6 separate regions of the Homo sapiens genome follow, and regions 2, 3, 4, 5 and 6 are each reported to be linked to region 1. The links are microRNA targets in miRTarBase. Many come from high-throughput screens and were not tested one by one. Region 1 holds a microRNA gene; each other region holds the end of a gene's coding sequence.
The links. The annotated mature microRNA hsa-miR-4477b reads AUUAAGGACAUUUGUGAUUGAU and lies in region 1 at 2,767-2,788, opposite strand. An mRNA with a match to its seed (bases 2 to 7 or 8) in the 3' UTR can be bound and repressed. Matches are read on the target gene's strand: a 7mer-m8 pairs with bases 2 to 8, a 7mer-A1 pairs with bases 2 to 7 and ends in A, and an 8mer does both.

Region 2: the mRNA of EIF5A2 is a reported target of hsa-miR-4477b. Seed matches in the 3' UTR shown: 8mer at 3,879-3,886, 8mer at 3,075-3,082, 7mer-m8 at 965-971 and 7mer-A1 at 449-455.
Region 3: the mRNA of PSME4 is a reported target of hsa-miR-4477b. Seed matches in the 3' UTR shown: 8mer at 2,241-2,248.
Region 4: miRTarBase lists MAML3 as a target of hsa-miR-4477b. Seed matches in the 3' UTR shown: 7mer-m8 at 3,822-3,828.
Region 5: miRTarBase lists CRB1 as a target of hsa-miR-4477b. Seed matches in the 3' UTR shown: 7mer-A1 at 1,338-1,344.
Region 6: miRTarBase lists BLOC1S5 as a target of hsa-miR-4477b. Seed matches in the 3' UTR shown: 7mer-A1 at 2,343-2,349.

What each region holds. Positions count from the first base shown.
Region 1 is chr9:63,816,999-63,822,410 of GRCh38, reverse strand. MIR4477B (microRNA 4477b) reads right to left here and starts at 2,837; the gene lies at 2,757-2,837. LINC00537 (long intergenic non-protein coding RNA 537) reads right to left here. Exons shown (of 2, transcript NR_146626.1): 2 at 3,382-4,833. It also overlaps the pseudogene DUX4L50. RefSeq lists enhancers at 3,704-4,240, 4,241-4,779.
Region 2 is chr3:170,888,998-170,894,409 of GRCh38, forward strand. It overlaps EIF5A2 (eukaryotic translation initiation factor 5A2), which reads right to left. Exons shown (of 5, transcript NM_020390.6): 4 at 5,295-5,412; 5 at 1-4,422. The coding sequence ends at 4,363. Among named protein-coding and RNA genes, the nearest start is that of EIF5A2, 17 kb to the right of the region's middle.
Region 3 is chr2:53,862,013-53,867,424 of GRCh38, forward strand. It overlaps PSME4 (proteasome activator subunit 4), which reads right to left. Exons shown (of 47, transcript NM_014614.3): 45 at 4,735-4,868; 46 at 4,073-4,211; 47 at 2,057-3,561. The coding sequence ends at 4,077. Among named protein-coding and RNA genes, the nearest start is that of GPR75-ASB3, 4.8 kb to the left of the region's middle.
Region 4 is chr4:139,715,414-139,720,825 of GRCh38, reverse strand. MAML3 (mastermind like transcriptional coactivator 3) reads left to right here. Exons shown (of 5, transcript NM_018717.5): 5 at 503-4,073. The coding sequence ends at 1,503. It also overlaps a transcript of MGST2 not described here. Among named protein-coding and RNA genes, the nearest start is that of MGST2, 52 kb to the right of the region's middle.
Region 5 is chr1:197,476,680-197,482,091 of GRCh38, forward strand. CRB1 (crumbs cell polarity complex component 1) reads left to right here. Exons shown (of 12, transcript NM_201253.3): 12 at 985-1,776. The coding sequence ends at 1,200. Among named protein-coding and RNA genes, the nearest start is that of CRB1, 210 kb to the left of the region's middle.
Region 6 is chr6:8,010,854-8,016,113 of GRCh38, reverse strand. It overlaps BLOC1S5 (biogenesis of lysosomal organelles complex 1 subunit 5), which reads left to right. Exons shown (of 5, transcript NM_201280.3): 5 at 286-2,547. The coding sequence ends at 465. The region is part of intron 4 of BLOC1S5-TXNDC5 (BLOC1S5-TXNDC5 readthrough (NMD candidate)); the gene reads left to right. It overlaps EEF1E1-BLOC1S5 (EEF1E1-BLOC1S5 readthrough (NMD candidate)), which reads left to right. Exons shown (of 7, transcript NR_037618.1): 7 at 286-2,547. Among named protein-coding and RNA genes, the nearest start is that of BLOC1S5, 51 kb to the left of the region's middle. RefSeq lists a silencer at 3,855-4,063.

The sequences.
Region 1 (5,412 bases):
TGTAAGGTGTAGGACCATGATTCAATTCTGTCATTTTATATTCTGAAATCATTACCCAATATTTTAATACCACAAATGGAACAATCGCTCTGTTTTGTGGGTTTAAAATGTTACCCTGTTACTAGATAAAATTACACTCAATTTCTGTGTTTTTAATTCTCTTTCATTAATGTGTTTATTTTTGTGCCATTTCAAATTTGTTTAATTTTGGATAGTGATAATAATCTTAAATATCTTATAGTAAATTTTATAATAATGGCTCTCATTGTATGTGTGTGTTCAATATATGGATTTAAAATCACATGTTCTTGTTCGAAAATATTTTTCTTGGAATTTTTATTGGAATTTGAGCATATTTTTAAATGATTTACAGCCAACTAAAGAGTTAATATTATTGAGTCCTGTCATCCAGAATGTGACATGCAAATTCCTCAGACCTCCTTTAATGCCATTTAGTCAGAATTAATATGTTAAATCAATATAAATTAGTATAAATGAGTATAACTAATGATTAAAATAAATTAATGTGTTTGGCTCCACATTTCTGTCTTCTGCCTTCTATCACTGATGTTTTATTCCTATCCTTGTTGTTTTCTATAGTTTCTTTTATTATGTCTTTTTCTGTCTTGTGATTTGAAAACTATATAACACATTGTAATGTTTTAATTTTTCTAATTTTTTGCTTTTAATTTTAACTAATTTTATTTTTTAGAGAAGTGCAGGTTCACAGCTAAACGTAGCAGAGAGTACAGACTTCTCATATGTCCCTTTCCCCACACACAGCCTCCCCACTACAGCTTCCTGCCTCACAGGAGCACACCTGTGACAACCAGGAACCTACCTTGATCCTTCATTATCACTCAAAGCTTACAGTGCACATTCACGTTTACTCTTCACGTTGTACGTTCTGAGTCTTGACAAAAGTATAATGGCAACGGGATATTATTCACTGCTAACAGGAGATGAACTATCAAGCCACAAAAAAATACATGGAGGAAACTTAAATGCATATTGCTAAAAGAAGAAGCCAATCCGAAAAGTCTACGTACTGTTCGATTCCAATTATATGACGTTCTGGAAACGGTGAAACTATGGGATCAGTAGAAAGATCAGTGGTTGCCATGGACCAAGGGGAAGGAAGAGATGGATACACAGAGCACAGAGAATCTTCACGGCAGTAAAACCATTCTGTATGATACTATAATGGTAGATATATACATTTGTAAAAATCTATCTTAACTTTTAATCTTTTAAATTACATTTTTTTTTGATGGAGTCTTGCTCTGTCGCAAGGCAGGAGTGCAGTGGCACGATCTCGGCTTACTGCAACCTCCGCCTCCCGGGTTCAAGCGAGTCTCCTGCCTCGGCCTCCCGAGTAGCTGGAACTACAGGTGCCCGCCACTGTGCCTGGCTAATTTTTGTATTTTTAGTAGAGACTGCGTTCACCATCTTGGCCAGGCTGGTCTTGAACTCCTGACCTTGTGATTCACCCGCCTTGGCCTCCCAAAGTGCTGGGATTACAGGCGTCACACACCGCACCTGGCCGTTTTGTTTTAAGAACTGCAGACAAGCTGGGTGCAGTTGCTCAAGCCTGTAATGTCTGCATTTTGGGAGGCTGAAGTGGCTGGATTGCCTGAGCCCCAGAGTTCAAGACCAGGTGGGCAACATAGTGAGATCCCGTCTCTACAAAAAAAGTATTTAAAAAAAAATAGCTAGGCATAGTGCTGCATGCCTGTAGTCCAAGCTACTCAGGAGGCTGTGGTAGAAAAATCACTTGACCCAGCAGTTTGAGGCTGCAGTGAGCTATGATCATGCCACTGCACTCTGGCCTAGGCGACAGAGCGAAACCCCATCTCAAAACAAAGAACAACCAAAAACCTAGAAGCATACTCAGAGATATTGTGGGTTTGGTTCCAGACAACTGCAGTAAGGCAAATGTTACAAACAAAAACCTACAAGCACACCTCAGAGATAGTGTAAGTTTTGTTCCAGAACACTTCAATAAGGCAAATGTTACAATCAAGTTAGTTGCATAAACATTTTATTTCCCGGTGCTTATAAAAGTTATGCTTAAACTATATTGTAGTCTAATGAGTATTTAATAATTATTAGTTATTAATTAATAGCATGTCTAAAAAACTGTGTACATACCTTAAGTTAAAATACGTCAGAGCTAAAAAATGCTAATGAATATCTGAGACTTACCACGTCATAATCTTTTTGCTGGTGAGAGTCTTGCCTCTATATTGATGACTGCTGGCTAATCAGCGTGGGGGCTGCTGAAGGTTGGAAACCTGTGTCAATTTTTTAAAACAATGAAGTTTGTTCCTTTCACAAAAGATTTCCCTGTAGCATGTGATGCTGTTTGACAGCATTTTATCAACAGTAGAACTTCTTTCAAAATTGGAGTAAACCCTCTCAAACCCTGCTGCTGCTTTATCAACTAGGTTTATGGAATATTCTAAATCCTTTGTTGTCATTTCAACAATGTTGATAGCATCTCCACCTGGATTATATTCCATCTCAAGAAAATATTTTCTTTGCTCGTCCATAAGAAGCAACTCCCTATTTGTTCAAGTTTCATCATGAGTTTACAGCAATTTCATCTCACCTTAAGGCCCTAATTCTAATTCTAGTTGTCTTGTGATTTCTACCACATCTGCAGGGACTTCCTCCACTGACATCCTGAGCCCTCAAAGTCATCCATGAGGGCTGGAATCAACTTCTTCCAAACTCCTGTTAATGTTAATATTTCATCCTCCTCCCATCAATCACAAATGTCCTTAATGGCATTTAAGGATTGCTATTAAGGACATTTGTGATTCACGGGAGGAGGTTCAAATATCATGAAAGGATTAATGGTGAATCCTTTCCAAAAGGTTTTCAATTCAGTTTATCCAGATTCATCAAAGAAATCACTATCTATGACAGCTATACCTTTACAAAATGCAATTATTAATTAATAAAAACACTTGAAAGTCAAAACCACTCCTTGATCCACAGGCTGAAGGTAAATATTGTACTAGCAGCCATGAAAATAACATTAATTTCCAAGTACATCTCCATCTAAGCTTCTGGGGAGCTAGGTGAATTGTCAATAAGCAGCAATCTTTTTTTCTTTTTTCCTTTTCTTTCCTTTGATTTTTTCTTTTTCTTTCTTTTCTTTCTTTTCTTTTTCTTTTTTTTTTTTTTTTTTTTTTTTTTTTTTTTTTTTTTTGACGTAGTTTCACTCTTGTTGCCCAGGCTGGAGTACAGTGGTGCGGTCTCGGCTCACTGCAACCTCTGCCTCCAGGGTTCAAGCCATTCTTCTGCCTCAGCCTCCCGAGTAGCTGAAATTACAGGTACTACCACCATGCCTGGCTAATTTTTTTTGTATTTTTATTAGAGATGGGGTTTCATCATTTTGGCCAGGCTGGTCTTGAACTCCTGACCTCAGGTGATCCTCAGCCTCCCAAAGTGCAGGGATTACAAGTATGAGCCACTATGCCTGGCCAACCAACAATCTTTTTAAAAGAATCGTTTTTTTTTTTTTTCTGAGCAGTAGGTCTCAATAGTGGGATTAAAATATTCAGTAAACCATGCTATTAACAGATGTGCTGTCACCCAGACAGTGATGTTCCATTTCTAGAGCACAGAAAGAATAGATTTTGCATAATTCTTAAGGGCCCTGAGATTTTCAGAGTGGTCAATGAGCACTGGCTGTAACCTAAAGTCACCAGCTGCAGTGGTCCTCAAAGAGAGTCAGCCCATCCTTTGAAGTTCTGAAGCCAAGTGTTGACTTCTCTCTAGCTATGAAAATTCTACATCTTCACTAAGCTTAATCATTTCTAGCTCTGGACTTAAAGTGAGAGACTTGCAAGTCTTCCTTTCATTTGAGTTCTTTGAGGCCACTGTGGTTACTAATTAGCACCCCTGGTGGGTGTCACCCTCCTCCCTCCTCTATCGGGTTCACCTACACCGGGGCGTGGGGAACGTCGCTTCCTGCACCCCACATGCCCTGCGCTCCTGGGGCTCTCCCACAGGGGGCTTTCGTGAGCCAGGAAGCAAGGGTCATCCCCCTGCTCCAGCCCAGCCAGGCTGCACAGGCAGAAGGACTCTCCCAACCTGCCCGAGCATGCGGGGCTTTGTGTTCACTGTCCTGGCCCCTCCCTCCGAAACTGGGGCTCTCCCATCCTCAGACTCCCTGGTGGCCTCCGAACCCCAACAAATGACAGGAAGACCAGAACCCACAGCGCGACGGCCTGCTGGGCGCGTGCTCAGTGGGACAGCTTGGGGCCCCTCAAGCTGAGTCACAGGGGAAAGGTGTGCTTGCACCACCCACGTCCCACCGGAGTCCGTGGTGGGGCTGGAGCCCCAGGTCGCCAGGGCGGCATGGGAACCCGAAGACGGGGCACCTTCACCTCCCGAGCTCGTGACCCCGGAGGCCTCCGCGTCAAGCGCAGATGCCAGCCAACCGGGCACCTCCCAACCGCTCCAGGAGCCGGGGCTCTCGTCTGCACTCACCTCCAGCCTGTTAGATGAGCTCCTGTCAACCCCAGAGTTTCAGCAAAAGGCACAACCTTTCCTAGATCCGGCGCCACTGGGGGAGCTGAAGGACGTGGAAGAGCCCGCTTTGCTGGAACCACTCCTCAGACAGGAAGAACACAGGGCTCTGCTGGAGGAGCAGGTTGGGGCGGGTTTGGGGCAGGGTGGGGGCAGGGTGGGGGCAGGGCGGCGGCCTCTCTTTTGCAGTGAACCTCAGGCTTGGTATGGAGAGGCGTGTCTTCCCTTCCAGCTGACCTCCCTAGGATCCCTGAGTTCCAGGTCCAGCGAGAGACTCCACACAGAGTAGGGCTGTCAACAATGAAAAGAAAGCATTCCTGAGCATCCCGGGGATCCCAGGGCCGGTCCAGGTACAGGGAGGTGGGCTGTCTACTGCGCATGCGCGGGTTTCCAGGCAGCAGCCTAGTCTTCTAACTAGCCCAGGCGGAGCTCTCCTCCCTTTCCCCCCCGCGTTCTTCAATCGGGTTGGCGGAGACCTCAGTCCGCGAAACACTGGGCCGGGGCAGAATCCAGGCCAGTTCTCCTTTCTGTGGCTCAACTCCTCCGCCTCTTCGCTCACCATCACTTGCCAACCCGTGTCCCGCCAGCCTCCTCGCCAGCACCATAGAGCGCCTTACAACTAAATAAAGACCCGAGACCTCGCGCAAACCAGGGTGCTGCCCTTTCCAGGCAAGAGGGAAGGCAGGCAGAGATGAGGACAGGAACAGAGACAGAGTGAGATGGAAGGATGGAGCTAGGCAAGGATGGGTGGAAGGAGGGACCCCGGAAGGGAGAGAAAGAGGGAGGGAGGGAGAAAGGGAGGAAAAAGCCAGGGGAGGGAGGGTAGAACAGATGGAAGGATGGACGGAGAGACAAAAGGAGCAAGAAACA
Region 2 (5,412 bases), not on the chromosome of region 1:
TCAATACCAAGAAACAGTTTTAGGGACTTCATATAAATACAATAACCTGTCTTTTTTTTTTTTTTTTTTTTTTTGTAAAATAGGTTTCTACCTGTTCTAAGGAGGAGAATAGTGGTAGATGGCAAAGTTGGCAACAAGTATGTTTCTAGCAGGTGAAAGCCTGGTATGCATTGCCATAAAGTGCATCTTTTACATAAGGAAAACATGCTTATTAGATGTATACAGTACTTTTCAGGCACTTGACCTCACTTGGTAGCTAAGTTGGTGTTCAGATGTTTGTTTAATGGAAAAACATTAAATTACATATTGGCTTCAAGCCATGTTCCCATAGAACATCTGTGTTTCATAAGCTAAATCCAAATGTTCCCTGCTAAAATCAAATAATGATGCCATATACCCAATTCAGAGAAAAAATTTAATAGATTAAATAGATTGAATTGTCTCAATTTTTAAGGTTTTCCACCATAAATTTTTCTTAAATCTTTGTTGCCTGTTACTTGTCTGAATGTTAGCAGAAAAAAAAGGCTTGAAAACTATGAAATATTATGCCTAACTGATGTTAAAATGAGAGCTGCTGATCAGTACAATATACTGTTAATGGAAATATGCTTATATTTTCACTCTTACACTGCTTAAGAGCCATATTTTCTCATAGTAAATGCGTTCCTAGTTCATATTACAGAATTCAGTATGTAAACATTTCAGTGTACCCAAAAAAGCATTATGAATTTATCTATTATCCCTAAATATGTTTGGTGAACCTCTACATCAATGCCTGGCTCCAAAACTATCTCTGGGGTCCATGCCAAAGGAATGCTTTCAGATGTATCCTAAGGATAGGATTCTAAGATGAGACTGCCAAAATCTATTCTAAAATGAAAAAAATATGGCAAGATTCCAGTATGGATGCTACTGTTTCCATTTTTTTCTTGACTATTTAGCATGTAGTTTAAGTGTGTTGACATTAAGGATTTTTTTATATGCATGTATCACAGTTATTACAATTTGGGAAAATTCTGCCAATATATTTTCAGGCAATTAGCTTTAAAATAATGAAATTTCAGCTTTTAGCACAAATAGCCCTGAGAACAATGCATTCAAATTACAGCTCAACTAGAAATATTCTAATTGAGAAACCTTAAAGTACAAAAACAAGTTGTGGAAAGTTGTAAATTTAAAAAAAAAAAGTTACCAACAGTTGAGGCACCAACAGACTACAATACTTTTAAGAGTTGGGAGTTTGGAAAAAAGAACTAACATATAAAGTTATGTGCGCACATGTGCACATGCAAATTGCATTGTAATGAAAAATTGTGTCTCCAAATTTTACAGCCTAATCATTTTATTGCAGTATCTCCTATTATAGATATCATGCTCTGATGCAGGAGAGTTTTGGTAATTAACATAAAGCGCTGGTACAGAGACTTGTATCATTAAGGGAAACAGAGTCAAGAGCTTGGTTAGCAACAGTTTCTTCAAGTGACTGAGCCCCTGGAAGGGAGCATGAAAAAAACATCATAATTATGTTTATGATGCAAATGCTAAGTCAAAGTAGCAATGATATGATCTATGTTGTAGCAAATAAGGTATAACAAAGTCTTCACAGTATAAATAAAATGTTCTAAAAAGAAACAAATATTCAACCTGTTAATAAATTGGTGAAATGTATACAGATAAAAATGGCTTATCACTGTACAATGATATCAACATGACAGTCCACATTCTATACATGGTAACTCGTGATTTTTAACATTTGCTACAAAAAAGTACAACAAATATTGGGAATCAACTTTAACATTTCTGATGTCTAAAAAGAATGAAGTCACTTCTGTTCTATGTTAAAAAATACATGTTCCCCGCTTCCTTTTAATATAATTTATAAAGCTTTACTAAATATTTTGTTCTAGAGAAACATCTATTGACTTATGTGAAAATAAAGTCCCATATCTTTAAAATCTATACTTATATATCGAGTATTTACACTTCATATATTACTTAAAATGAAAATATTTATGCATAAATAGCGTTTGCCATTCAAAGTATGAAGATAGAGATGCATTATTATAATTTGTACACCCTTAATTTGTACACAATTGAAAATATATTTATGTGAAATTTTACAAGTTAGGAAGAACAGGGGCATGCTAATTGAGAGTTAATACTGAATCATAACACCAGCATGGTTAAGAGGGGCCATATGAATGAACTGCAAGCAGCACGGATTAATAATTTTCTGGAATTCCTATGAGTTACAATGCCAACCAGTAGCAATTAAGATACACATTACAGAGTACTAAGAAACTAGAGCAGTATGTAGTAGGTACTTAAATAGAATACTGGAAAGAATGTAGCCTAATTTTAATTGTGCTTTAGATGGGCAAAAGCTAAAATGTTGTAGGAAAGACGACTAACTACTACCTCACTATTTCTTGTGCTTTAGAAATTTCCTTTGTATTTCTCTTAAAGTATCTTGCTTCTTCCCCAAATTGGTTTGCCGAGGCTAAGACAATATTTAAAAGTGTGTACAAATTAAGCAACTAAAACTTGGGATCTTCTGTTACTAATGCTATTTCCAGTCACTGATTAGATCAGTTACATCATCATATATGATATACTTTCCTTTAGAAGATAGGAACAAAGGGCTTTTTAGAGGTCAAGGCATGATGGGAGAGGTCTAAGAGCCAGTCTTAGAGAATTAAGGTATTTCTGAGATAGTGATTTTGTTCTATGTTTTGCTCCAATATGATGATTGTCACTGAGTCAAAGGTCCTCACAAACCCTGTAATAATGTCTAAAATTCTGGAAATAATATACATATGACTCAAAAGATGAAATAGAAATGCAGTGGTGTCACCTAAAATACCTTTTAAAATAATTCAGTTTATAGAATTATTTGCTAGTTATAGTTCACACCAGCAACTGAATTAAGTCACACAACAATCAGAAAAAATGCATATACTTAAAATAACTTAACTTAAATAATAATATTCATATAAAGTAATGCTGCTTCCATGATTCACTTTAATTCACTTTAGGAAAAAAAGGACATAAAATTAACAAAAATTCCAAATCAATTTAAGGAATTCTCAGTTTTTGTTTAATAAATACATTAATGTCAAAAAATCTACTTAGAAATGGTTGGAAAGGGGCTGGGTGTGGTGGCTCATGCCTGTAATCCCAGCACTTTGGGAGGCTGAGGCAGGTGGATCACCTGAGGTCAGGAGTTCAAGACCAGCCTAGACAACATGGTGAAACCCCATCTCTACTAAAATACACAAAAAAGTAGCTGGGCGTGGTGGCATGCACCTGTAGTCCCAGCTACTTGGGAGGCTGAGGCAGGAGAATTGCTTGAACTCGGGAGGCAGAGGTTGCAGTGAGCCGAGATTGCACCACTGCACTCCAGCCTGGCTGATGGAGTGAGACTCAGTCTCAAAAAAAAAAAAAAAAAAAAGGAAGTTGGAAAGGAGTATTTACTGATAAATATTACTATTTATTCAACATAGTTGGAAAACAAGCATTGCATAGTATCATGTAAAGCAGATCACTCCCTTTAAACGTTGGGGGCAAAGTTAAAAGCAAAAACAACTGAGAAACAACTTTTCATTTTTATGCTGACTTACAAAGTCCTCACATAAAAACTTATAGATTTAATCAACCCTCTTTGCCACTGTCTTTTGTGTCTTCCTTATAATCTTACTTGCTAACTAACTTTCACCCAACAGTTCAGTGCCCTTCTGCCAACCATAAGAAGGGACTAAAACCACCATATAAGGTTACATCAAGTTTGCCAACAATTTGGTAAATAGTATGACCAAAGTAATCACATGGTTGCATGTGGCCACCAAAATAACTGACAGTTTTTGATAACATGATTTTTGTTTAAGGATTTGTGTTTGCCCTACACAGGCTGAAAGTGCAACAATTCCAATATATAATCAGTTCATTTTATATTAAATCTGTAATTAATGCAGAGCAGTTCAACTTAAATATGGTACTTCAATACCACTTTATGCTACATTGTTTGATTTAAAACCCTGGTTTATCATCTAACTAAAACACAGGAATGATTTGCTCAGACAAATCACATCTGCTGAAGCTATCTTGTTTGTTTCTTGGACTGACATACTGAAAACCACAGGAATATTATAGGAAACATATCTACAAAATTCAAAAAAAATTATACATATTGATAATTTTTTAAAAATTATCAATTGCTTGCAAAACTAACCCAGCACAATCTGAAAACAATTAAAAAAAGAAATGAGGTTGCTTATGAAGGCTATAGCTTTGGTGACAACTTAGAACCAAATTAGATCTGCAGTTGATTCAGACATAAACAGTGTTCATGCCTGATGTTTCCGTTTATTTGCAGGGTTTTATGGCTACAGCATATTCTTCACTCATTGCACACATGACAGACACCTAGAAGGAAAAAAGCAGGCAAAACGTTATTCAGAAGACAATACATATAGAAGATATAATTAGTTCCTCATATATTGTATATTTGTGGATATTTTGTACATATGGACTTCTGAAAGGGGTATTCCAAAACAAGCTACTTTCTTTACAGTTTTCTAAAGCAGAATTTCTCAGAGTGGTTTGTAAGACAACTTCCAGGGAACAGGAAAAATAACTATAAATGTTTGAACACTTACTACCCGTTACATTTCTGAAAGTTGTAACGAAGACAGTAAATCTCCTTCACTCTTTAACATTCCACTAGCATCATTTCTTACCTGTAAGAATAGCTCAGGGCTGGGCGCCTTGCTCAGGCCTGTAATCCCAGCACTTTTGGGAGGCCAAGGTTGGGGGATCACCTGAGGTCAGGAGTTCAAAACCAGCTTGGCCAACATGCTGAAACCCAATCTTTACTAAAAATACAAAAATTAGCCAGATGTGGTGGCACGCGCCTGCAATCCCAGCTACTCAGGAGGCTGAGGGGAGAATCGCTTGAACCTGGGACGCGGAGGTTGCAATGAGCCGAGATCACGCCACTGCACTCCAGCCTGGGTGACAGAGGGAGACTCCGTCTCAAAAAAAAAAAAAAAGTCAGGTGCAGAGCTTCAAAACAAATTTGGGTTTGAGAGTAATGCTGATGTAGCAAAAATGAACTTTGATACTTTCTTTGATAATGAGTCTCTAAGGGTTTTATGGAAAACCTGCCTGAGAGATCATTTTCAACATTTTAGCAGTATTTTTAAACCACATTCCATATGTAGTATTTTATGTTAACTAGTTGAGGTCAAAGTTTTTATAAAATGGTTTTCAAAAATAATCCTTCTCTAAGTCTTTACCTGTACATCTTCACCTGCATTGTATTTTCCCTCTATTTCTTTGCCTAGTTCACCTTCTGGCAGTTTAAGATCCTCACGAACTTCACCAGTTTCTGTCAGCAGGGAAAGGTAACCATCT
Region 3 (5,412 bases), not on the chromosome of region 1:
CAACCTTGATGTTCAAAAGGAATACTTAAAACAATTAGGATATACTGAGAAGACGAAGTCTACAAAAACAGTTATGAAGGCCACGTAGAAAAAGTTACTTTTCCTGTGATGATAGCTCATGATTTTTTTATTTTTGTGAGACACGGTCTCATTCTGTCACCTAGGCTGGAGTGCGGTGCCGTGATCTCAGTTCACTGTAACCTCTGCCTCCCACATCAGCCCCCCAAGTAGCTGGGACTACAGGCACGTACCACCACACCCAGCTATTTTTTTCTATTTTTTGTAGAAATAGGGTCTTTCTATGTTGCCCAGGCTGGTCTCAAACTCTTGGGCTCAAGCGATCCTAAAGTGCTGGGATTACAGATGTGAGCCACTGCGCCTGGCCAAAATTAATTTTTTAATAAAACAAAATTGCTCTTTAGTCTTTCTGGCCACACTCCTAATTACCAAAAGTGGCCTGCGGCTTAAAGGGCTTGGTAATGACAAGTATTTCAAATATTTGAAAACAGCTTTATCATATATTTGCACCTAAACTTTCATTTACATTAATAGGTGAGTAAATTTTCCTCCTACATTTTGAAGGACAATCTGCAGTCTTTGCTTTCTAAAGGATCCATTCAGAAACTAAAGATTTATTTGACCTTATAAAAAGATAAATAGGCTTTTTCTTCTCCTCACTTCTCATCCACCCTCAGAGAGTGGCCCATACTGTCTTCCATGCCCAGTCAACAGTGACTTCCAAACACAGGTCAGCCTCTCCCCTCCTCCTCTAGTAAATCTTGTTACCACCCTTAACACAGTTCCTGCTGTCCTCATGCTTTTTAACACACCATATACATGTTAAGAACTATCTTAGACCATACAAGCCATGCAACTCTTTTCTCCACCCCCTTTCTCCTTTTCCCTCCTGGTAGAAAATTTCATTTTTCCTATTGGTAAACAATTAATTCATAGGACAATGTCACTAGGGAAATATCAAAGTAATAAGCGACTTCCAAACCCAGAATCAGAATCACCTGGGAGCATGTTAGGCACTCAGATTAAGGTACCCTCTTTTTAGGTCTGTGGTGGGATTCGTGTGGTTCTCAAACCTGGCTGAACAACTGAATCATCATAGAGCTTCTAATACTGTAATGCCTAAGCACCCCTGCCAGAGAAGTTTTCACTGAGGAACAGAGAGGGCACCCAGTATCTTACATCTTTGTTTAAAGTTCCCATTTAGGAACCATTGCTAAGGCAGTTTCATACAGCTTAACTAAAAAAAGCTGAAGTGGTCAACATACAACATAAAGCCTCACTTCTCAACGTGTGGCCTCAGGACCAGGAATTGATATCATGAAGTGGGAACAATGAATTCCCTGTACATTTAAACAAAATCCCCTCATGATTCTTAGGCACATCAATTTAAGAACCAATCAGTTAGGATCAGGCACGGTGGCTCACACCTGTAATCCTAGCACTTTGGGAGTCCGATGCAGGTGGACTGCCTGAGCTCAGGAGTTTGACCCCAGCCTGGGCAACATGGTGAAACTGTCTCTACTAAAATACAAAAATCAGCCGGGCGTGGTGGTGCATGCCTATAGTCCCAGCTATTCTGGAGGCTAAGGCATGAGCATTCCTCATGGGAACATGGGAGGCAGAGGTTGCAGTAAGCCAAGATTGTGCCATTGCACTCCAGCCTGGATGACAGAGCAAAACTCTGTCTCCCACACCTCCACACAAAAACAATCAATCACCTAGGTCAGTGCTAGGTGAACTTTCTGTGATGATGGAAAAGTTCATCGATATTATTCAGTGTGGTAACCACTAGCCACATGTGGCTCAAGAGTATTTAAAATATGCCGGTGAGACTGAGGGAATACATTTTTTATTTAATTAAATATAAATAGTCAGATATGGCTAGTAGCTACTGTATTGTACAGGGCAGATCCAGATAATTTATACTGGTCAGAGGACATACATTTACAGATACAAATCTATGGCTGCAAAAGGAAATCCACAGGAGTCACTGCCTACAGAACTGTCTTCTCCTCTTAATGAAGACAAAAGCCAGGTGTTAAAAAGAATCCATTTATTGGGTTTTAAACTAGTTACACAACTGAAATCAGTTTGGCACTACTTTATACAGGGATTACGCCTGTGTATGCCGACACTTAAATACTGTACCAGGACCACTGCTGTGCTTAGGTCTGTATTCAGTCATTCAGCATGTAGATACTAAAAATATACTGTAGTGTTCCTTTAAGGAAGACTGTACAGGGTGTGTTGCAAGATGACATTCACCAATTTGTGAATTATTTCAACCCAGAAGATACCTTTCACTCTATAAACTTGTCATAGGCAAACATGTGGTGTTAGCATTGAGAGATGCACACAAAAATGTTACATAAAAGTTCAGACATTCTAATGATAAGTGAACTGAAAAAAAAAAAACCCCACATCTCAGTTTTTGTAACAAGATAAAGAAAATAATTTAAAAACACAAAAAATGGCATTCAGTGGGTACAAAGCCCAAAATCACTATAATAAAGAACTACACGTGAATCTTTACAAATTACACAATGATGTTGTGTAAAAGGTTGCATCTGTACAATGTCTTGCCAATGCTATCTCTACAGTTTATACACTCTTTTACATTTATATAACATATTAAACAAATCAATTAAATATTAAGCCTTATTAGTCTCTCAACGATTCTGCAGGCAAAATAAAAAGGGAGAGAGAATAAAATAAATTAAAAAATTACAAAATTTCCACAAACACAGCAGTCTTCCATTTAGGTGAAGTATAATAATTTTCAGAGGGTCAAAAAATAGTTGTAAAGAATACAGGGAAAAAACAGCCAGTCAGGGTTTTTATTGTTGTTGCTGTTTATTTTTAAAATCACACATTGAATACACACAACAATCAGATTTCTTCACCAAACCCCCAATTTTTTAGCAACTGGCTCTATTCAGCACCAAAAACTCCAGTCTGTGGGAAGTGCACAGACACAGACTTCACTTCTGTGTCTTGGTCGAGCAATCCATCAGGTCATTGGTTAGGTTCAGGACTTGCCCTCTTTTCCTTCCCTCTTCATGGCTCTCCAGACCCAAGGTTCTCAAGGCTTCAGATTTATGGCCCACAGCCCCTATTACCACCTAAATCCAGCAGCCATTTGGGAAGAATTCAAAATAATTTGAGATGAATGAAATGACAGGACCTGTATTACAGATGGGTATTCTCCATTCCAAGTAAACTGTTTCTTAATGAGTTCTGAGACTCTGGTCTTGGATGCCATGATCATACTGGGTAATTATTTCTAGTCTGAGACTTTGTGACTTTGTCAGATGCCTCAAAAAAAAAAAGTGATCAGTATTCTGGAAACACTTCCGGACAAGTTGGGAAATCAAATGGCAACTGAGAAGCTGTGGAATGCAGACTAACGAGATCTAACACAGAAACCACCAAAATGATGAGAGCTCAGCAGAGGCAGTTTTAAAACTTGCAGAGAGCCACCACAGATGGTACCTGAGGGTGTGGAATTTTTGATGAAAAGAGCCTGAAGTGAGGACTAGTCATCTGTATCAGGGAGGAAAAAATTTCAATTAGGTAACAAGACATCCAACTCTAAAAGCCTAATAAATGAAATTTTTATTCTTCCTATTCCAGTAGAAAGGCTTCTGGGTACTCCCTCTTTAACAGAATGGGTGTAAGAATCCAGATCAAGTTCTCACAACTTTTAGAACCCAGAGTCCTCAGGGCCACACAAAATGTCCCAGCCCCACCCAGGAGGCAACCAAGAATAAGATGTATTTTCCTTTATCTAACTATTCCCAGGCTGACACCACTCATCTACAAAGGTCCAAAAGCAGTCACACATTTTCTCTGCTTTAAACCTAAAGCAAGGAGGCACAGCAAAATTCTCATTTCCAATGGCCGTAGCAAAAGCCATGTTTAAAAACAAACAATCCCCGCCATCCAACTTTATCTAAACACTGACATCTAAGAATGTCAGCAAAAAGAAAAAAAACAATAAATATCTAGTTCTCAGTCACCAAACCAATGTAAATTCAGAACTTTGCTGACTTACCTTTCTATGCATAATAGCATGGTGACACAAGAAGATCGGTGAGAACAAGCAGTTGGTCATCAGTGAATTGCTGTTTATGTTCCTGCCAGTTGTCATGGTGAGTCCTTCGGAAATTGGATAAGGTTTTTTTTACAGTCATCTGTAAAGTAGACAACCCACATACGTTTTAACCTCTCTGGACAACCAGGATCATATGTAGGATACTTTTAGTTAAATTACCGTCCCTCTAGACTTCAGATCTCACACAATACCAAGTTCTACAAAACCAAAAAGCCAATGAGAAGGACAAAGTGAATGGTCTTTTGAGTTACTAAAAATGCCATCATAATTTCCTATTTAATATTAGCTTCCAGTAAAATACTTTGCAGTGCTAGAAAAATAGAAACATAAAATTTATCACAACAATATTGACAGTACTTTACTTCCATTGGACTGGGAGGGATAGAAGCTACAATAATTTCCTCACTACCAAAAGATCTCAAATATCCATGGCAGCAAGGTCTCTGTAATTTTTTAATAATTACTGGTGAGCAGACTAAGCCTTGGCAGAGGCAGCAGCTTTATGAAAGCAGTTAGTTCAGAGTGTATAGGAAATTATTATTATGGTTTCTTAGAAAACATCACTGATAATACACGTACAAACTAATAAGGAAGAACTGTACCTCAATAGGCTGAGGATCATTTAGATGTGCACTGAGATTCATGAGGAGCTGGGGCATCCAGGTGGGAACATCGTAAGGACTAGAAAGAACACATGCACCAAGTCCTAGCACCCCAGCATGGCGTTTGACCAACTCTGCAAAGAGAATAGCAACATTTGTGCAAATATATATATGTCTCTAATGCACTTGTTACAGTGAGATAAAATTAGTTTTCAATTGTGTTGTTTTCAATATGTGAATTTCTGCATTTAAAATGAATCTACATGTAAACACATCAAATACTTGATTTTGAGGCTAAACTAAAAATAATTCTGTATTTAAGAATTTGTCAGCTGGGCACAGTGGCTCATACCTGTAATCCCAGCACTTTGGGAGGCCAAGGTAGGAGGATCACTTGAGGCCAGGAATTTGAGACCAGCCAGGGCAATAAAGTGAGAACCTGTCTCTCCAAAAATAATTTTTAAAAATCAGCTGGTGGCCAGGCATGGTGGTTCATGCCTATAATCCCAGCACACTGAGAGACCAGGGCGGGTGGATGACCTGAGGTCAGGAGTTCAAGAACAGCTTGGCCAACGTGGCGAAACCCTGTCTCTGCTAAAAATACAAAAATTAGCTGGGTGTGATGGCATGTGAAGTCACAGATACCCAGAAGCTGAGGCATGAGAATCATTTGACCAG
Region 4 (5,412 bases), not on the chromosome of region 1:
ATACAAAGTGATCAGCCATTTCTTTCTAATTTAGCCCCAGAGGTGGATTCTCTCTCACCTCCAAAGAAAATAGTATCTTATTGGTTGAGGATGATGTCATACCTATAAGAGTACGAAATAATTTGCTTCTGAAGTATAAACAAGAATTACATCAGGATCTGTTTAGTGGAAAAGTCAGCTACAAAAACACATGCACAGTACGATCCCAATTTTTGTGGGTGTCTATTTATATACAAATAAAAGAATAGGAATGATCATCTCTGGATAGTGGGATTTCAGGTGACTTTAATTTTTGTCTCTGTATTTTTTAACACTTTCAAAATTTTCACAATCAGCATATGCTATAATCAGAAAAATAATCATTTTTGTTACAGATTTATTATCAGAGTAGATCCTTTCATATAAAGGAATTTTGTCATTCCCAAAGAAAATTCCAACATCTTGTTGCAGTATATTGCTTATGGAGAAGAGTGAGTGGTATGTGTCCTCTTTTTCACTGCAGGTTCTCCCCAGGATATAGCAGCCGTAAGAAGCCAAGCAGCCCTCCAGAGCATGCGAACGTCACGGCTGATGGCACAGAACGCAGGCATGATGGGAATAGGACCCTCCCAGAACCCTGGGACGATGGCCACCGCAGCTGCGCAGTCGGAGATGGGACTGGCCCCTTATAGCACCACGCCTACCAGCCAACCAGGAATGTACAATATGAGCACAGGCATGACCCAAATGTTGCAGCATCCAAACCAAAGTGGCATGAGCATCACACATAACCAAGCCCAGGGACCGAGGCAACCTGCCTCTGGGCAGGGGGTTGGAATGGTGAGTGGCTTTGGTCAGAGCATGCTGGTGAACTCAGCCATTACCCAGCAACATCCACAGATGAAAGGGCCAGTAGGCCAGGCCTTGCCTAGGCCCCAAGCCCCTCCAAGGCTGCAGAGCCTTATGGGAACAGTCCAGCAAGGAGCACAAAGCTGGCAACAGAGGAGCTTGCAGGGCATGCCTGGGAGGACTAGTGGAGAATTGGGACCATTCAACAATGGCGCCAGCTACCCTCTTCAAGCTGGGCAGCCGAGACTGACCAAGCAGCACTTCCCACAGGGACTGAGCCAGTCAGTCGTGGATGCTAACACGGGCACAGTGAGGACCCTCAACCCAGCTGCCATGGGTCGGCAGATGATGCCATCGCTCCCGGGGCAGCAAGGCACCAGCCAGGCGAGGCCAATGGTCATGTCTGGCCTGAGCCAGGGAGTCCCAGGCATGCCAGCGTTCAGCCAGCCCCCAGCACAGCAGCAGATACCCAGTGGCAGCTTTGCTCCAAGCAGCCAGAGCCAAGCCTATGAGCGGAATGCCCCTCAGGACGTGTCATACAATTACAGTGGCGACGGAGCTGGGGGTTCCTTCCCTGGCCTCCCGGACGGTGCAGACCTTGTGGACTCCATCATCAAAGGCGGGCCAGGGGACGAGTGGATGCAGGAGCTTGATGAATTGTTTGGTAACCCCTAATCAAGAGAGGCCCCAAGATCCACAACTCGAGTGGTTAAAGCTTAAAAAGTGAAAAAGAAACAGGATGTTGACCCATCCTTGTTTTTTGTTTTTTTGACCCACGTAAACTGAGCAAAACTGCAGCTGGCTGACAATGGAAGATCCAGGTGCCAATCCACAGCCCCACCAGGCCTCATTTCACCTGATTTTCACACAGCAATCGAGATGAGACGCCATGCAGATCCCGGCTGCGAGAGAGGGAGACACCCGGAGGAGCAGGTGGGAAGATGAAGCCGGCCAGAGCCCCTCTGCCCAGCATGCCCTGTGATCGCCTGGCCCAGCAGGAGCTGCTTCAGCCGAGAGGGACTATTACCCAAGAGAGGTATCCTCAGCCCCTCCTGCCCCAGGTCGGGAGACAGCAGCTTTGGAGACACAAAAGAGACAGAGCCTCAGCCAGGGAGAGTGAGTCCCCCAGAAGAGGCTGGGTGGTTGCACAGGCCAGGTGCACAGGTTGGAAATGCACTGAACTCTGGGTGCCGAGAGATGTAAGGCTTTGAGACATGCTACTGAATTTGGAGGGCAGGCACGAAGAACAGTGAGATTGTCAAAAGGAGACAACCACAGATCCTACAGGACTGTCTGTCTCCTGCCCCATGATGACCCTCAGGAATTGCAAAGGCTCTGCTGTCACAAGGAGAGCAGGCTGAGTTTGGAGCAGGGTCCATCCGGCAGTCCTGGGACGGCTTCCCTCTGCTGGTGCCCCTGGTGGCAGTCCCTCCAGGTGGGGCTGGAGCCTGCTGGCGCCCAATACAAAACCCATACATCCAGGTGGGTCACATCTACTTCTGGCGGCCGCAGGGCAGGGAAACCCCTACTGGACCCTGTGTGTCTGCCAGCCTGGAGCCTTTGTCTCCAGCCCTGCCTTTATTCCTCCTTGCCTCCACACCAGCCTCCCCTTGCTTCTCCTTACAGACTATCCAAGAAGTGAAGCTTATGTCTTTAGGGAGCCTTGGGCAGAGTCCACATAAATGCAGGAAGAACTTAGACAATGCCTGAAATGCAAAGGCGACACTGGAGTCTTCTTTCTCTAACGTGTAGCGTTGAATGAATATCTGCCTGGAACCAAGAGGGCTGCTCTGATGTTTGGGAGTCGGTTTTTTGTGAGCCACATCTGATATTTCTGATATCCCCAGGAAGGAGTGGCCTGGAGGTCACTGGTTCAGGCTCCCTTTGGGCGAAATCCTGGGAGTGATGCTCTAAAAATCCACCTTTCCCATCATCCCTACTCATCAGAAAGACAAATATAAAATCCCAGAGAGGTGGAGGAGCTAAAAAAGCAATTGCTCCACCTTACAAATTTGGATAGAAAGGAGATGTAGTTTATTTCATATGGGCAAAGTAGTCCTCTTCCAAAGTCCTGTACAGTTGTTCTCTGCAATTGACGCACATCTGCCCTAAGCGAAATCTGTCAGAAGGAATCAACAAGGCTCCTTGCCTCCCCTCCCAATCCCCCTTTTGGAGGACTTGTGGCTTCGGTGTCGTCCTAAGTGAGAGTGGCGTGTGCTTTTTTCCTGTCCCCTCCTCCCTCCGTGTCCTAGACGCTGGCTGCCTTCTGTGCACTCCCAGGCAGATCACTACGGAAGAGTCGGAGCCTGTGGGGTTGGACTGGCCACACTCAGTCCTGAGAAGGCGAGTTGCCATGGAAAGCTGGGGGCAGAGGTGTTTTTGGAGAGGAGGCGGCAGGCAAACATTGCCTTTGACTTGCTCTCCGCGTACCCGGGGTTGTAGAGCTGCTCAGGAAGGGGCAGGATGTAAGGCCAGAGGTGCCTGGTGGGTGAGAAGCCCAGGCAGGGGCTGGGCGCCCTCTCCGAAGAGGTGGCAGCAGGGTGACCCTGAACTCCCCAAATGGGGAGTGATGCCACTGGGGAAACTGAGTGGATCAAAGAGATGAAACCAAAAAAAAGCAAACAAACAAATGAGAAGACACAAAACATAATTACCTTTTCCTGAAAGGTACAGGAAATAAATATATAAGCAATGATGAGAAACTGGAGGTGGCTAATGGAAGTGAGACAGACAGGGGTGGGGGGCTCCATTATCTTTTAAAAGCTTCCTCCAAATGCTCAGTACTGGGACCAACTAATAGGTAGATTTTAATATGGTGGTTTTGTTTTGGTTTTGTTTTTACTACGGTGCTGATGTATATGTAATGTCTAAAAAAAGTTATTTGTACATAAGTTTTTACAATACTGCAGATATCACTGGGTCTACTATCTGTAAAAAATATACATATAAATATATATATACTGTTTGTTTAAAATAGAGTATTTTTATTTCATTCCTTAACTCATCATCACAGCAGTGGTATTGCACTTCAGATGACATCTAATTACTAATTTGTACTGTATGACCTCTGGCAACTTGCTCCATTTTATTCAGATTTTTCTAGTTTTCTGTTTTTACTTTGTACATTGAGCATTGCTTATTTCCTTTTAAGAAATGTACAGAACGCTGAAATGTAGAAATGAAGTGATGTTGACATACCACTTTTAAAGAAAACAAAAACAAAAATAAAAGATTATCTGAATCAATCCAAAGTATAGTTTATTTTAAGATCCTCACTGGAGCTCCAATCTTAATTAAGCAGACATATTATTCCTGGGTTTTAATTAACTGCAGTTCTTTTCTCAAAATTTTGATATCATTCTTTAAACATTTATTTAATGGGAGAGATCAATCATTCCCAGCCTTTGCATTCAACTGCACAACTGATGATACTTTCTGAATTTACTGCCGCACTCTGAAGGATGTGGCAAAGGGAAGGGAGGAAAGTCAACTTTGCATGGAACATAGTGCAATCCATTTGTAGATTCAGTACCATAACAATTCCATTTCCAACTAGTTCATCTGGAGGTAGGGAGGCTCCACTGGAAAAATAAATATTTTTGTCAAAAAAAGAAAAATCGGAATATATTGAGGGGAAGTAATAAAGGTTCTTGTTCCACTGTAGTGAGCACTGTCAGTAAACAGCCTCCACCACCCCACTCCTACCAGGCCACTTCTTTGCATCTCAAACCATGGCCTGGCTTCACCTGCACCCACAGAATTGAAAGTGCTTAGAAGTTTATACCCCTCTGGATTGACTTTAGCCAGTGACTCACTGGTGCAGGAGTATAAAAGCCCAGTTGACTTGTCTGAACAAACTCAGATATAATTTTGCTCCAGAGCTCTACTGCAAGATCAGGCAAAGGCTGGGACTTGGTTTAAAGGTGCCCCCCAGACCGGGCACTGTAGCTTACACCTGCAATCCCACCCAGCACTTTGGGAGGGCAAGGCAAGCGGATCACTTGAGCCCAGGAGTTTTGTCAGAGGCGTGTGAACCAGAGCAACTCCATGTTAAATAGGAGCTGGGTAAAATGAGACTGAAACCTACTGGGCTGCATTCCCAGACGGTTAAGGCATTCTAAGTCACAGGATGAGATAGGAGTTCAGCACAAAATACACGGCATAAAGACCTTGCTGATAAAACAGTTTGCAGTAAAGGAGCCAGCCAAAGCCCACCAAAACCAAAATAGCGACGAGGGTGACCTCTGGTCGTCCTCACTGCCACACTCCCACCAGTGCCATGACAGTTTACAAATGCCATGGCAAGGTCAGGAAGTTACCCTATATGGTCTAAAAAGGGGAGGCATGAATAATGCACCCCTTGTTTAGCATATCATCAAGAGATAACCATAAAAATGGACAACCAGCAGCCCTCGGGGCTGCTCTATGGAGTAGCCATTCTTTTATTCCTTTACTTTCTTAATAAACTTGCTTTCACTGTGCACTGCAGACTCACCCTGAATTCTTTCTTGCGCAAGAGCCAAGAACCCTCTCTTGGGGTCTGCATCAGGACCCCTTTCCTGTAACACATTTCTCTGTCCTGCA
Region 5 (5,412 bases), not on the chromosome of region 1:
AAACTCTCTAGGATGTTAAACACAGATTTCATTTGTAATAGATTGGTTTGGTAACGTGGGGATGAGTCCTAGAGAAAGCTAAATAAGAAGGTAAAAGAGTTTACTACTGATTTACTCTGATAGAAATATGTCTTTGAAAAAATCAGTTTAAAAATTCAAACAGTAACTCCTTTCTGTCTTTAATATTTCTGTGCAACTCAGTCACAGTTTCATGTTAGCCATTGTTAAACTGATAAGAGCTCAGGTTTGCTAAAAAGTGTTTGCAAACACATCGGAATTAACATTAATCAAACCACTGTGTAAAAATAACAACTTTGAGAGCCCAGGATCCAGCTCCCTTTGACAGGGCTCTACCTGCCGTTGTCTGCTGCTAGATACTTGGATTCAGCGTTAAGCACATGTGCCTTTACAACCATTCAATTGCCATGTTGAATCCGAATCAGAGTGATTCCTTTGGAAACCCCCTGCGAGACCAGCGTATCACAGTCCCTCCTCTGTGTCAAGAATTTTTCCCACAAGACCCAACTAATTTAATTTCTTTCCTTTCCCAAAGCAACAAAACAAAACTGTAAAATAACCATTTCTTCAGTCCCAAATTAGAACTTTTGGCAAGGGAGGAAAGAGATCATGAATAATACGTGGCTATAGATCTAGAATCATTTTATAAATATAAGTGTGGGCTCATCTTTTGCCTTTGTTGCTACATGAATCATCTCAGTCACTGAGATTAAGAGACTGAGCAAATATAGTAGGTATTTCATGCCATATTTTCTGACTGTAGACTTTAGATTCTAGATATATGATTATTTGTAAATGATTTGAGAATAAGAAAATCTGACTTTCTTTTAATACCTTGGTCTTTTTACAGTACTGAGTGGTACCAGCTTGCTCTGGTTGGTCTTCATTCCTGAGTAGTTCCATTGTCCTGAATATTTATTTGCCTTTGCTATAGAATTCGCATCCCAATGATTTCAATCTTTCCAGTTGGCAGATGACTTGATCTCCGACATTTTCACCACTATTGGCTCAGTGACTGTCGCCTTGTTACTGATCCTCTTGCTGGCCATTGTTGCTTCTGTTGTCACCTCCAACAAAAGGGCAACTCAGGGAACCTACAGCCCCAGCCGTCAGGAGAAGGAGGGCTCCCGAGTGGAAATGTGGAACTTGATGCCACCCCCTGCAATGGAGAGACTGATTTAGGAGCATTGTGTCCCTTCGAGATGGGGATCCACACACTGTGAATGTGATGACTGTACTTCAGGTATCTCTGACATACCTGACAATGTTAATCTGCAACTGGGATTACACTGGAACTACAGGAATGATTCCTTTGACCACCTTAAAAACTTTCACAGTGGTTCCGCTCGACACCATTGTTTTATTATATTATATCAGCCAATTGCAAAAAAAGTCTGTGCCAGTAATTTCAGCCTTATAATTAGCAAAAACATCTTCCAGAGAATAAAGTCTTCTGTGGCTTTAGTGGCTATCACTGAAACTCTTTCCTCTTTTCAACCTGGGAACAAATTTTAGTTTTCATTTTAGGTTTCTGTACTTTCTGTAGTTTCTGTGTAAACTGCCATATGTTTACATGGAAACTACAGGAAAAAATTGGCTACATTTCTCACTTCTCCTATCATGTGGTCAAAGTTATTGTTGTATACCAGCGATGGGATGTATACTTTTGTCCTTCATTCATGGATTCAGAGAAAGCTCTGGGAATGACTTATGGTCCAAAAAAGTGACCCAATGGCAACAAATAAAAATTGAAATGCAGTTGTTCTCCTTTCTGAGTACTTTTTGCATTTTTGTGACATTATGTGTGACAAAAGTAACCTCTAGGAACATTTGAAGAACCTGCTTATGAATTAGACCTTTTACCTAAATCATTTCAAGTTGGTTACATTTTCAAATTATTACTCTTTGTAAAGGGTTGGTTAAGGCAAAACGCTTCCTAGATAGAAATCAAAACGGGGAAAACTCAGATTCTCAAGTTCGAAAAATCGAGTTCTTTTCTTCCAACTGCTTTTAGGTAAATCAGTGCCAAACAGTGACATTGTTTAAAGGTAAGAACTCCAAAGTTAAATGTATGCACTTTACGGAGTATGTGTTTTAAGACTATGGGATATTTGGAGAAAATGCTGGGGTTTCTATTCTTATATTTTCTTCTACAAAGCATCTGATTATATTTTTATATGTGCTTTGAAATATATGAAACATGCTACTGCTGTAGAATATAAATAAAACTTAAGAATAGATGCATATATATTCTGGGTATACACTCAACATGTCTAATGACATGAATTTTTAAATCTGGTCTAGAAGAACCCATCCATCTCAATTACTCAAGGACATCATTTCAGCAAGTGCCCTTCTCTTCTACATCATCAGTTTACCCATTGTCCTGGGGCATCCCTATCAGCACCAACATGCTGTCATATTTCCTATCATATAAAATTCTCTCCTGTGGCCCTCATCTCACTCCAATATCTACCCCATTCCTCAACACCCCTTTTCAGCAAAACATCTACAGAGGAGTTTTCTGTATTTTTGGTTTCCCTTTTCTTGTCTCTCATCCTCTCTGGAACTTAAACTAATTTGGCTTTTCTCATCACCACTCCATGACCTCCACATGGTCAAACACAATGTCCAGTCCTCAGTCCTCAGCTTACCTGACCTCTCCTAAGCATTTGAAACAATTGTCACTCCTCTTGAAATATTTTCCACACAATGGGACACCATTTCATCTTGATTTTCTTCTTACCTCACTGTCCATCCCCTCTCCATCTCTTTTGATAGTTTCCCCTCATTCCTTAAACTCTGCTTTATTTTTTTCCATACTGTTTATCACCACCTGAGAGACTGCGTATTTTTTTTTGTTGTTGTTGTTCTCAATTTTCTCTATCTAGAATTTAGGTTATATGAGGATAAGAACTATTTTTTTTTTTGACTCCAGTATCTCTCACCTGGAACAGGCCTAACCCATAGTGAAAACACAATAAATATTTTCTGGATAAATAAACAAATAATGAATGAATGGTGCTCAAATTTGTACCTGCCACCAGAGAAATCCCAAAGTGCCCAAGATTTGTGTGGGCTGTCATTGGATGCTCTGGTCATGAAACTATCATGGCTCTGTAGCCTATCTAATGTCTTACTCAATCTCAGGCTTTTTTATCCATATCTAATATTGCTTTAAGTGTAAGTTTAAGAAAAAGCATGTCTCCAGTGTCTACATGTGAAGTATACTATGAGCTATATTTATTTTTGCATTTCATTAGATACAACTTCTTAATAGAAGTTCATATGGAAAAGAAAGAGCTCATGCTTGAAAAAATAAGTAGCTGAGTTAAAAACACACACACAAACTAAAAAAAAATCACAGGATATAAAATGATTCTATTGGTTTAATTAATCTGAGTATTTGCTCTATTCCAGTACCTAGCTTAGAGCTTTGCATAGGAATGTATGTCCAAATACATGGATAAATGAATGCATGCAGGCATGAATAAATGAGTGATTCTTTCCATGTGGACACTCCAAGCACGCACACATTTACAGGCTGCCCCAGCAAGCCAAATCTCTTTATCTTTGAAGAAGCTAAATATTCAATATCTTATGTCAAGAATGCTTCCAAATTAGCCCCATGAAGTATTTGTACTGAACTATTTTTAACAATGTAGACCTCATCTTAGTGGAAAAGTGAAGCATCTGCATGATCAATGACGGTGCAGCTTTTTAATAGAATGTATTTTCAAAATTTGTATTAGGATTGGTTTCGAAGACCGCAACAAAACACCACAGCAATTCCTCCCATGCTCATTTGCAATGTGACATTGCCACCCCTCCCATCAAGAGGAGTCTGTTTGTCTTCTCCTTGAATTAGGGCTGGCCTTGTGATTTGCTGTGGCTGACAGAATGCCATGGAAATGATGCTCTGCCATACACAAGAGGCTTGCAGCTTCTGTTTTCCCTCTCTTGGAAGGCGACCCTGAGATTGCCATACTGTGAAGAAGCTTGGAATGAAAATAACATGTCAAGAGAGAGTCCCAGCCATGCCAGACATCCCTGCTGAACCCGGCCTCAGTCACCGTGCCTGCTGGATGCAATCACTTAGTGACCCACGTGAGAACAGCAAAGGAACCACCAGCTCAATCCACAAAATCATGAGAAACAGTAAATTGTTTTAAGCCATTAAGGTTTAGAGTGATTTGTTACATAGTAATAGATAAATGAAACACAATTATTCACATCAATAAGGCAACCTAAGGAATACAGCAATATGAGGTACTTCTTTGATTCTAATTTCTTTGCTTTTAGAACTGCTGCTCTGGGAACTGGTGGACTATAGAGTATTCATTTGTATAGGAACAATAATTAGTACATTATGAATAAAATATGACACCTATATGTCAGATTTCTCTCAGGATGGCAAATAAGGGTGAAGAGCCACTTAATCCAAACACAGGTCCAGGAGGTGCTGAGGGTTATAGTCCTTCTAGCGCAGCTGTTTGCAGGCTTTGGGGCATGGTGTAAAGTGGACACAGCCGGCCAACTTCCTGCCCTAGGGTGAACCCTGGCCCAAGGCAGCCAATGTAAAAGGCACACATCTGGTGTGAGTTTACAAGGAGTGACAGGAAGCCTCCTTCAAGCGGACTCTCATGTGGCTTCTGTAGTCACAGTGAGTGCAAAGAGAAGCAGGAAATGACAAATGACTGTGACTTAAATCAGCTGTCAAGCCTTCCCCTGTTTTATTCCTAAATTACCACCGTATAATAGATCCTCTTATCTGAGACTGAGACAGGTATGGTCCCAGAGTCTGGCCCTGTGTAGCCATAATTGTTATTATCATTACCAATTAGTATTAGCAGCAGTAATTGAAGAGTAACAGTAATAGGGAATAGAGGTAGAACTAGAAGCCATCATAGCAATGATAATAATGATTATTATAACAATAAAGAGGGATCCCTTCCTGAGCCCTTGCTAGAGGCCAAGACTATCTTAAGCTTGCTGCGCTACATGCATTATGTCTCATTTAGACCTCATAACAGCCTTTGAGGGAGGAACTTTTATCTTCTTCTCACGAGCCTCTGCAGACAAAGAAACATAGTTTTAAACTTCTGAAATGCCCCATTCAGCTGATCTGAGCTTAATCTGAAAAATGGGAATCACACCTCTATTGCACAGGCACATTATGATAACATTATTGGAAAATGCTTAACTACAAGTAAGCACACAATACATAGCATCTATTGTTACTATTCAGATAAGATGAAGTGTTAGTAGGACAAATGACAAGCAGCAGTAACGTTTAAATGGTTTCCACACTCCTACCTCCTACTTTATCTGCCAGACAAACCAAATAGGTAACTACTTTCCTCCTATCCTCCTTCCCATCTGTCTTATAATGTG
Region 6 (5,260 bases), not on the chromosome of region 1:
CTTGAGGTGATCCACCGGCTTCGGCCTCCCAGAATGCTGGGATTACAGGCATTAGCCACTGTGCCCAGCCCACTTTTAAAATTTAAGAAATGAGAATATCCATGTTTAATTTTAATGAGAGAAGCCTTAGATGTTTCTAATGTGTCATCTTTTTTTGGATATTATAACACAACTTTTTCCTTGTGACTTACCAGCTGATTGTTACGGTAACCAAGTATCAAGAGATAACGTTATGAAATAATTGTCTGGAAAATGTCGTGTGACTTTCTAATTTTCTTTTCTCAGATTCATAGTGACCACTTAGTAGCTAGTGAGAAACAGCATATGCTCCAGTGGGACAACTTCATGAAGGAGCAACCCAACAAAAGGGCTGAAGTGGATGAAGAGCACAGAAAAGCCATGGAAAGGCTTAAAGAACAATATGCTGAGATGGAGAAGGACCTAGCGAAATTTTCAACCTTTTAAGAACTTGAACCACAACAATCACAAACTAATGAGAAGATGTTCACCTCTCTCCTGAAAACTATTCCCACCAGACCGTTTAGCCTCTGCTTCAAGCTTAGCAATATATTCAGTGGCACTCTTATATCAGAAGAAAGAAGTTTCTACTGGCATTCTGATTGGATATTTAAAGAAGGGTGCCACATTTTTCCAGCTTTAAGTGCCTATATATGATTATTTGAATGAAGAGGAGTAGGAAGGAAAATGGAATCAATATACTCTTTGTTAGTCAGAATTGATCATCTTTTCCATTGATTAGCTCAGAGAACTGTAGGTATAGACTTCTTAGAAAGATAATTTCATTCATTTCTATACAGGGTTAACAATAGTTTATTATTGTGGCTTAATGGGAAGGTATAGAAGCTACCTGTCATAGCCTCCTTGGCTGTTGGAAGGATGTATAAAGTGTTACTGCATGAGTAATGTAGACAAAAAAAAAAGCCAGCTGTCCTTGGAGCAGAGATCACATTTCAGAGAGGTGAGAGTGAACACATTGTCTCTGCTGTGGCAAAGATGGCCACGCTGGTGTTTGAGCTGCCTCTTGGGAAGCGTTGCATATTTTACAGTGCAGCATAATGCCATGGGCTTCCGTGGATGGGAAGACACATGTTAAGTTTTGTGGCCTTCCAGCACTTACTATTTTCAGCTTTTTAAAGCATGCTTAGAAGGAAAAGCTTACCAAAAATATATTTTGACATTTAGTTTTTCCAAGAGCTATAATCTTGCCCATAGTATTTACCTCATTTTTGTGTCTGTTTTGCTGTGGGTAAGCTTTATAAGATAAATAATGTCTATACATGTTTCGACTGTTTAATGAGTAATCAACAAAATCTGCCAGAGAGTCCCTCTGGAACCATATAAAGTTCCTGGCTTTGAATGAACCAGAAGTGTTTGCCCACACAGCAAATGGTCCATGTTAAATGTAAATCCTTTTTAGTGTTAATGTCTGTTCTCATAAGCAGGTATATTATGATGAAACATGTACCAGTTCTGTCATCACTGTGATCTTTAAAAACCTGCATTTAACAGTCTAATTTGAGGCTGGGTGCAGTGGCTCACACCTGTAATCTCAACACTTTGGGAGGCCGAGGCAGGCGGATCATTTGAAGTCAGGAGTTCAAGCCTAGCCTGGCCAACATGGTGAAACCCCGTCTCTACTAAAAATACAAAAATTAGCCCGGCATGTTGGTGCACGCTTGTAATCCCAGCTACTCAGGAGTCTGAGGCACGAGAATCACCTGAACTCAGGAGGCGGAGGTTGCGGTGAGCTGAGATGGCACCACTGCACTCCAGCTTGGGTGACAGAGTGAGACTCCATCTCAACAAAAAAAAAATCTAACTGAAGAACTAAGTTGATTTTTTATTTGCCATAAACCAAGCAAAAGTAAATGCAATAATTTCGAGATTTATGGTAAACAAATTTGAGGTATGGATAAATCTTTCACATATTTTTTATTGCTCTTTAGTAAAGAAAGGCACAAGAAAGAAAATATCCAGCTCTCTTGTGTTATCTCAGTGTGGCGACTGCAGAAAATTGACAATGCCTGCCTGTGTAAATGTATGGCTTACTGTCAAAGCTTCATTCTTGGCTGCATGTTGAAAATGTGATTAAAGTTAATAGAGGAGATGAAATAAGTATTTGAGATTTTTTTCAATAACACTGAACTTCTGCCAACTTTCTCTATCCGCTACTGTAGGCTTGACAGGCTCATCAATCATTTGCTGGTACCTGGACTAAAAAGCGCACTTGCTGACACCAAGGCATGTTGGAATTTTCTTAATTCAGTGGATGGAAAAAGAAATACTTCCAAAAATATCCCACACATGAAAAGGGAGGGGAGCCTTAAATGAAAATTCCCTTTGTACCGTAGACACTTTTTGGAATGCGATTAATTGCCAACACATCATTGAACGAATGCTGTAACCAAGAAATTAAGATTGTGTGTGTGAAGGGAATATATTCTTAACTGTGGCTACCCAACTTGTATAGCAAAGATTTCTGATAGTTTGTGTTCATCTCATGTGAATAATAAATACTTTACCCTATAAGTTTGTTTATTATTCCATAAATACCTAAGGGACTTCCTAAACCAAAATGAATTGATGGGCTTTTTGAGCTTTAGACATTAAGATACTCAATTGTTTCTTGTAACATTTTTAACTATTCAACATAGCTTCTATAAGAGTTGGTTTATTTACCTTCCTTTTGATATTCGACATAGCTTCTATAAGAGTTGGTTTATTTACCTTCCTTTTGATATTTTTAGTGGTGAACGCTTTTGCTTCTGTTTCCTAGTTGCCAAATCACTTTTTATATATATTTTATTTATATGTAAAAAACAATTTTAATAACTACATAATTTGTAACATTTCTTTCCTTTTTTTTTTTTTTTTTTGCGCGACAGAGTCTCACTGTGTCACCCAGGCTGGAGTGCAGTGGCGCGATCTCGGCTCACTGCAAACTTTGCCTCCTGGGTTCAAGCAATTCTTGTTCCTCAGCCTCCTGAGTAGCTGATATTACAGGCATGTACAACCATGCCCAGCTAATTTTTATATTTTTAGTAGAGAAGGGGTTTCACCATGTTGGCCAGGCTGGTCTCGAACTCTTGACCTCAAGTGATCTGCCCACTTCAGCCTCCCAAAGTGCTGGGATTACAGGCATGAGCCACTGTGCCTAGCCAGTTTGTAACATTTCTGCTGTGTTTGTGCTGTTGAGCAGAGATATTGTGGGTTCTATGTAGCTCATAGGATTATTGCAATGATCAAATGAAATAATGTTTTATAATTTTAAAGCACCATAGAAAGATTTGTTAAGTTCTATGTATTTTTAATTTTTAATTATGATTTCTTTCTCGACTAACATATGTATGAGGCTTTTTTTTCCCATTTCCTAGCGTGTATATTTTTAAATTCTGTGTTTATTGATTCCTGTTTTAATTGAATTTGAATTGTGGACAGAAAATAGGTACATGTTAAGACTGATCTGTTAATATTTGTTGAGATTTGCTTTATGACCTAGATTATAACCTGTTTTTGTAAATGTTTCATGATTGCTTGAAAAGTATGCTTGTTTTTTAGTTGTTGGATGTCCATTAGACCAAAGTTGTTAATTTTGTAGTTCAAATTTTTTCCATTTTACTATTCTTTTGTCTTCTACTTGATCTCTCAGACTCTGAGATGTGTTGAAATTTTCTATTCTAGTGAACTTACCAATTTCTCCCTGTAATTCTGTCAATTTTAGTTTTATATATTTTTATATATTTTGAAGTCTTGTTATAAATAAATAATTATAAATATATACATAAATATAAAAATACATAAACTATATATTATATTTATATGGATTATGCCAGCTAGCTGGATTTATAGGATATATCTTTTTTCATCCTTCTGTTAAACCTTGCTGTTATGTTTTAGATATGCCCTTTAAAAACTGTGTGACTGGGGCCGGGGACGGTGGCTCACGCCTGTAATCCCAGCACTTTGGGAGGGCGAGGCGGGCAGATCACGAGGTCAGGAGATTGAGACCATCCTGGCCAACATGGTGAAATCCCATCTCTACTAAAAATACAAAAATTAGCTGGGCGTGGTGGTGTGCACCTGTAGTCCCAGCTACTCAGGAGGCTGAGGCAGGAGAATTGCTTGAGCCCAGGAGGCAGAGGTTGCAGTGAGCCGAGATTGCGCCACTGCACTCCAGCCTTGGTTACAGAGCGAGACTCTGTCTTAAAAAAAAAAAAAACTGTGTGGCTGGATGTTTTTCTTTCTTTCTGATCATTTGTCAACTAAGGAGTTCAATCCATTTACATTTGTCAAAGTTACTGATATATTAAGATTTATTTGTATCATCTTATTTTGTGCTTTTTGTCCCACCTTTTCTGTTTCTTGACTTCTTTCAGCTTGAGTTTGTTTTGTTTCATTTTTCCATCTACTTTTCTTCTGCTGCTTTCAAAGTTAAACATTTCCCAGTTTCCAAATCAGTTTTGATATGTATTTTATTTATATGTAAAAATTAACTTTTAATGAAGTGCTTAGTAGGAAATTTAACTTGCGTAGTTAACAGAATCTAAAATTAACATCTTTACTCTCTTCCTATTCTTTAGAGATTTTTGTACAAAGTCTGATTTATCTCTTCAACTTACAAATTGTTGTCTAGAATTCTAGTTCTATCTCGATTTTACTACAAAAGTAGTTATTTTGTATAGTCAGTGTTTATGTAGATTTACCTAGAAGTTTGCTATTTTATTATCCTTGAAAGTTAGCTAGGTATACGATTATAGGTTGACAGCTGTTTTCTCAAATAATATTCTACTGTCTTCTTGCTTCCATTGCTGCTTCTGAAATGACAGTTGTCAGTCTGATCAGTATTTGTAGCTAATCTGCCTTCTTTCTCAGGTCATATTTAAGATCTTTATCTTTGGTGTTCTACAGTCAAATGTGGCCATGCTACAGTATGTTTAGCTGTATATTTCTTTTCATTGTCCTGTTGGGATTGATTGAGATTCCTGAATCTGAGAATTGGTACTTTTCATAAATTCTGAAAAATTCCCAGCTACTGTCTCTTTGAATATTGTATCTCCCTCATTCTCTCTATTCTCTCCTTTAGGAAATAAAATTAAGACTTCTGTTTTATGATCTCACTGTCCTCTCCATATCTCTTAATCCCTGTTTTATATTTCCCATCTCTCTGTCTCTAGGTGTTGAATTCTGGATAATTTCTTTAAATCTATTTCATTAATACTGTCTTCACTCTATCTCTAAC